Linked DNA regions of Homo sapiens: region 1 is reported to be linked to region 2. Evidence: microRNA targets listed by miRTarBase, many of them from high-throughput screens and not tested one by one. Region 2 holds a microRNA gene; the other region holds the end of a gene's coding sequence.

Region 1 (3,000 bases), not on the chromosome of region 2:
CCCGGGCCCAGCCCTGGGCTTCAAGACTCACCGCAGCGGCCCTCCTACTAGACGCATAGCGTCCACGGGGCTGGCGGGCGGGGGGGTGGTGACCTCCACACATACACTGCTTCTGTTCACTCTGGACTGCTGGCGATGGCCTGGTACAGGCCCAACAATCCAGTGCCATCCATTTTCAGGGGAACCCTGACTAATACAGGGATCATTCAATAAAAAGACTCCAACTCTTAGAAATCAATTTAGTCACTATTTATTATATTGACATATTTACAAAATAATACAAAGTGAAATACCACTCTAATTCACCGTATTACACGAGGGCTGCATACAGGCAAGACAAAGTATATGGAAAACATTTACTTCTGTCTTTGGTATTAGAACTCTACACAAATCTGCAGCATTTAAATTTTCCAAAACAAAGTATTAAACGTGGACAAAGATGTAATTGGTAATGTCACAAAAAGGGGCTCCAATATCCTCTGCTAGGAAACCCCCAGGCCCATGAAATGCAACAGGAAGACTAAACACCATTTATAAGGAGAGGGTCTATTGACTAAAATAAACAATACATGCTACAATACCATCCACAGGAGTGTTTCTGCTTGTGTGAGGCTGCTCCCTCCATAACAAAGTTCGGCTGACGGCAACAGACAAAACATTCCCGAGACAGAGTCGCAGATAAGACTTTACAGGAAAGAATCCATTCCAAGAGTACACTTTGAGGTGTAACTTTATTGTACAGAACATTTTATAAAATACATTTTTGTGATCATTTACACATATACAAAGACTTAAATGGTTTTAGCAAATAATAATTTTTCTAAAACACAATCACAGTTTACATAATTCTGAGGTAAAGGTCTTGAATCTATCCTAGATGAAAAGTCCTAGCCCATGAGGGTCTCTAACAGGGGGATGTGTCCACTGAACCTTGAGTTCTGGCACCCAGACGGATTGATGAGAGGGCAGGCTACACCTGCTTCATTTCAGAGATGATTCAAAATTTCAGAACTTAATGCTCCTGGTTCAGTTCTACTAAGTTAATGCTTCTTTTTTTTCCCAACATGTAACTCTCTCAGTCTTGTCAGAACACAACTTCTGCTATGGAGGAAATATTTCCATCAGGAAAGGGCCAAGTTAGTGTCTTAACTTGACTGCCTTGAATGGGGACTCTGGACCCCAGGAAGAATGTATTTAGGCTCCTCACAAAAAAGAGTGATGGCTGGGCAAAACAAATGTACTGCAAGACCCATCTTCCCTCCAGTTAATACACTCCCAGGATGGGCTGCAGAGGGGGAGACTCTGAGAGAAGCTGGAGGCCCACAAAAGTCCACTGACCCTCTTTCTGTCCCAGAAATGAATAAAGGACCCAGTTGTGCTTTCCTTCCAAAATCCTCAACAAAGTTGTTTGTGCTCCAAGAAAATGTGGGAATAAAAAAATCATGTCCCAGGTCATCTTTGTGTGTGTGCGGGGGAGGTGGATGGGAGGAAAAGGCATGTATTAATAGATACTGCTGCTATAAAATGACATAAATTATAGCCCTTGATCTGTTTCTGTAAACAATGCCAGCTTCTTCAGGTTATTGGCAACTACCCTTAATATACCTAGCCCAGATCCTTTCATAAAGTCAAGTGCTATATTTCCAAAATAATCCTATGAAATCATGAAGGTTGTGAAGGTTTAATATGAAGACACCCTCTCTTTTGTGTGCTTTTTTCACCTTTTATAAAGAAGTTTGCAAATATAATCAGGACACCAAATAAGTAATTAAAACCCTTCAGGGATAGCTCACTTATGATGCAAACCTGAGCACTGGCCTCATATTTTATAATATCATGAGTAACATCTGAGGGTAAAAGTGTTTGCCGGGCAATGAGTCACCTTGTTGGACAATTTAAGACAAGTAAGGCTGGATCTTTCCAGTAAGCTGCTCAAATGGCAGAACTCCAATTTTTCGTCATGCTGGGAAAAGGAAAATTACACTTCTGCTTCTTTGTACCATCAAATAATCTGGTGAATGGCATGTGAGAATAAAGCAAAAGTGTATTAAGATTTACTGATGACTGGCATTCATGGTATCTGACCAGAAGAAGTAAAGGGAAGCACGAACCAATGTGTTTGCAGGGCTCTTCTGGGAAGAACAGCTCTTGGTTTTGCCCTGGTCCCTGACAATGACAGACTGGCAGGCTGTTTCTTGCACAGCTCTAGGCAAGCCATTAATCTGTCAGTACCAGCATCTTTAGAAATCTCAGCATTAAGACTTAGGAGGGGCTAAGGAGGGAGGATGTTGAACAGCCAGAAATGCAGCTTTTTAAACACTTCAGTTAATTCACGATGCTGTGCAGGCTTCTATTTATCCCTTCTCTGAAATTTTTGGTGCAGGGTGCAACACGGGATTTGAATTTATTCATCCTCTTCCACATATGTGGATGGAAACCAGCCCACCTAAAAAAGAAAAGCAACCAACACAGCAACATGACTTTGTATCTGACACTTCAAAGGATTCTACAAACAGAGTATTTTGTTTTCATAACACCCCAATTAAACTGGGGTTTTATGTCCATTGTAGGTGAGAAGATTGGTTTAACTGCTCTTAGAAGCCTAATAGAGTAAATGATCGAAATGGAGGAATAAAATAAACAGTGTTCTAATCCACTAGCACACAAATAAATATGTAAATTAAGTATAATACAGGGGGGCTCTGCTGCATAATGATTCCTATTTCTGCTGTAGAACAGGATGAAAAGACAGAGGTACTATGTCCCATTCTTTCCAATTTACATCAGCAGTTCTTATAGATATTTTGCAATACACATAAAGTTTAGCTCTATGGCTCAGGGTCTAAAAAGAACTGAAATGCTCCTCGACTCTTTTCCAAGCAGCAAGCTGTCCCACTTGCCCAGGTGAATTTTATTTATGTCACTATCATATTCATTTCAAATATTTTCAGCGAGTCCCTGGTATCAGCAAAACACAGCACCAGTTTCCAGAGGGCAGAG
Region 2 (3,012 bases):
TGTATCCGGCCTGCCCCTCTGCTCCGCTGTAAACCTGTGATGGCAGTGGAGGGGCTTGGCCTGGGCCCGCCCCACCGCGAGGTCTTCCCCTCTCCGAGTTCTGGGTGTGGTTTCAGTTGAGCCACGCCGTTGGACTGGGCCGGCCTGGAGGACAGAAGGCACAGGCTCTTCCACATACCTGGCTCGTGGCCCATGGGCCGTCTGCTCACGGGAGCCCTGCACCAGGCCATGCAGAGCAGTGAAGTCAAAACCTCGTTTCCCAGGTCTAAGGTGAACTGGGAGCAGGGCAGGAGTTGGCTCTGTCAGATGCCACAGTTGTTTGGGGACAGTGTCCGTAGAGAATGTGTGGCCCCCCTCCGTGGTCTAGGGTGGAGCGTGGATAGGCCGGTCACTCCTATCCCTGGGCCCAAGGCTCTTTTCCCCTGCCCTCCCGTGGGCTGGGAACTGCCACAGCTCAGACAAAAATCGGCCAGGGCAGGGTCCTGAGGCTTCAGTCCCAGGCTCCTTAGGGCACCCCTGGTGACCCAGCTCCAGCACTGAGTTTCCAGAGGCCTTGAGGATTTCCCTGGGATGCCAGATGGGCCCTTCCTGCTGCTCCTGGGGTCATCTAAGCTCCAGGCTTGGGTGCAGCCCTGGGCCCCTGCCACAGACGCCCTGAATGCACCTGCCCCTCCCGGTCCCCACGCAGCAGCCTCCTGAGCTGCGGATCATTTTCCTAAGAAGGCATTCTACTTGTGCCAGTCCTTACTTAAAGACCCCTGCTGGTGCTGGCAGCGTGCTACCGGGAAGGATGGTATCTCCTGTGCGTGTCCTGTGTACGCTGGCCTCACACGTGTGTGCCTCATGCGGGCTGTGCCCTCAGTCCTATACGCTCTCCCCAACCCTCTTTTAGGGTGTCACAGGAGAAAAATGACACATTCCTAAATCTCTAACACATGGGCTTGAAAACAAGTCTGAGGATGCCCTGCAGAAGGGCCATGGGCATGGACATGGAGCTGGGTGGCCTCGTGCACTGACCTTTCCCTCTTCCTAGCCCCAGGCCCGACCTAGAGGCCACAGCCCCTGCGGACAGGCTGTGGGGCCAGAAGGGCCCACTTCAGAACTTTTCTCGTGGGCAGTGTTTAGGCCACAGCCACCCATGTGTAGGGGTGGCTACACATGGGTGGCTGTGGCCTAAACACTGCCCAAACACGTTATATTTTTTATAACATGGAACTAGATGGCAGAAGTTTAAAGGGAATAAAAGAGCTACTGGAGACGATTTGCAGCTTTCATAAATTTCCAGAGACTGATAAAAACACAGACTTGAAATTGTCCCAAATGAGCCAAAGTGATGAAAACAAGTCTTTTCTAAAACTCTGAATTCTAAGGGAATGTAAAATGCAGAAGTTCAAATCGGGTTTAGAAAACCATAAGAAATAATAGTGCATTCGCCGGGCATGGTGGCTCACGCCTGTGATCCCAGCACTTTGGGAGGCCAAGGCAGGTGGATCACTTGAGGTCAGGGGTTTGGCAGCAGCCTGGCCAACATGAGACCTCGTCTATACTAAAAATAAAATTTAGCCATGCATGGTGGCGCATGCCCTTAGTCCCAGCCACTCCGGAGGCTGGGGTGGGAGGATTGCATGAGCCCAGGTGTTTGAGGCTGCAGTGAGCTGTGATACCACCACTGCACTCCACGCTGGGCAGCAGAGCAAGATCCTGTCTCCAAAAGACAAAACACAAAACAGTGCATAAAAAGGGGCCAGGCACGGTGGCTTATGGCTGTAATCCCAGTACTTTGGGAGTCTGAGGTGGGTGGATCACTTCAGGTCAGGAGTTCGAGACCAGGCTGACCAAGATGGTGAAACCCCGTCTCTACTAAAAACACAAAAATTAGCTGGGTGTGGTGGCGCGTGCCTGTTGTCCCAGCTACTCGGGAGGCAGAGGCAGGAGAATGGCTTGAACCCGGGAGGCAGAAGTTGCAGTGAGCCAAGATTGCGCCACTGCACTCCAGCCTGGGCAACAAAGCAAGACTCCATAAATAACTAAAAAGGGAGCTGATGAGGAGTTATTTCTGGGAAATGGCAAATGCCCACGGGTGACCCTGATGCCAGCAGCTTCTCTCCCACCAGACCTGTGCTTCCCACACAGCCCCACCTGCTCTTGTCTTTAGACTAAGAGCCTGTCACCGGGCGTTGATCTAGCCGGCTTTTTCCTTTGTGTTATGGGCCTGTTCCTTCACCTCAGTGTATTCTCTGCGTGTGCTCCCTTCTGGGAAAAGCAACGTCCCACGTTTGTGTGATTGAAATGTGAAAGGAGAGCCTCATGTCTAGATTGTGGGCGAGTGATTGAGCCCTGTGACCGCTCGCGCGTGTGACCCACAGACTGTGACTGTGTCCCCTCAGCATTTATTTTCTGGATGGTCACAACGTATTCAATGTGTCCTTGAGACAGCCACCCAGCCCTTAGGGTGGTCCCTGCGTGTCCTGGGGCGGGCGACTTCCTGAGGGTGCAGTGCTGGAAACAGAGACTGCTTCGAGCCTGGCCACCTTCCCTCCTGTGCCGGCTGCTTCTAGGAGATGCTGTGGGACGGTGCCCGGCTTCGCGGTGACTACCATGCCCTAAGGAGCAGAGCCTCCAGGATGCCCCCGGGCTGCGCTGGACGCTAAGACCCCAGCACCTAATCACAGTCAGCAGCTTCCCTCCACTGACAGTGATCTGCATGGTCCATTCCTGGCGGCCTGGGGGCCTCGCTACAGTTCAACCTGGCTGGCTTCCCGCTTCCTCCCCAGGGGAGATTAGTGTCGTGTGTAAACTTGGACAAGTCACTGGGTCCTCTCTCCAGGGAGTGCCTGGAGAAATTCAACCCCCAGCTCAGCTGCAGCCCTTCCTGGGTCAGCTCTCCACCCAGAGACCCCGGAGCTTGCCCGCAGACTGCCCGGCCTGCCCCAGCTCTGGGAAAGTGAACTCCAGAGTATGCAGACATGGAGATGCGCATGCTGATCCTGGGCATGAGGGCTGGGCTGCACT

Evidence for each region. The annotated mature microRNA hsa-miR-4717-3p reads ACACAUGGGUGGCUGUGGCCU and lies in region 2 at 1,155-1,175, shown strand. An mRNA with a match to its seed (bases 2 to 7 or 8) in the 3' UTR can be bound and repressed. Matches are read on the target gene's strand: a 7mer-m8 pairs with bases 2 to 8, a 7mer-A1 pairs with bases 2 to 7 and ends in A, and an 8mer does both.
Region 1: miRTarBase lists VAV3 as a target of hsa-miR-4717-3p. The part of its 3' UTR that is shown has no 7-base or 8-base seed match.

The regions. Positions count from the first base shown.
Region 1 is chr1:107,570,927-107,573,926 of GRCh38, forward strand. It overlaps VAV3 (vav guanine nucleotide exchange factor 3), which reads right to left. Exons shown (of 27, transcript NM_006113.5): 27 at 235-2,446. The coding sequence ends at 2,405. Among named protein-coding and RNA genes, the nearest start is that of MIR7852, 320 kb to the right of the region's middle.
Region 2 is chr16:2,273,507-2,276,518 of GRCh38, forward strand. It overlaps MIR4717 (microRNA 4717), which reads left to right and starts at 1,114; the gene lies at 1,114-1,185. It overlaps ABCA3 (ATP binding cassette subfamily A member 3), which reads right to left. Exons shown (of 33, transcript NM_001089.3): 33 at 2,375-3,012.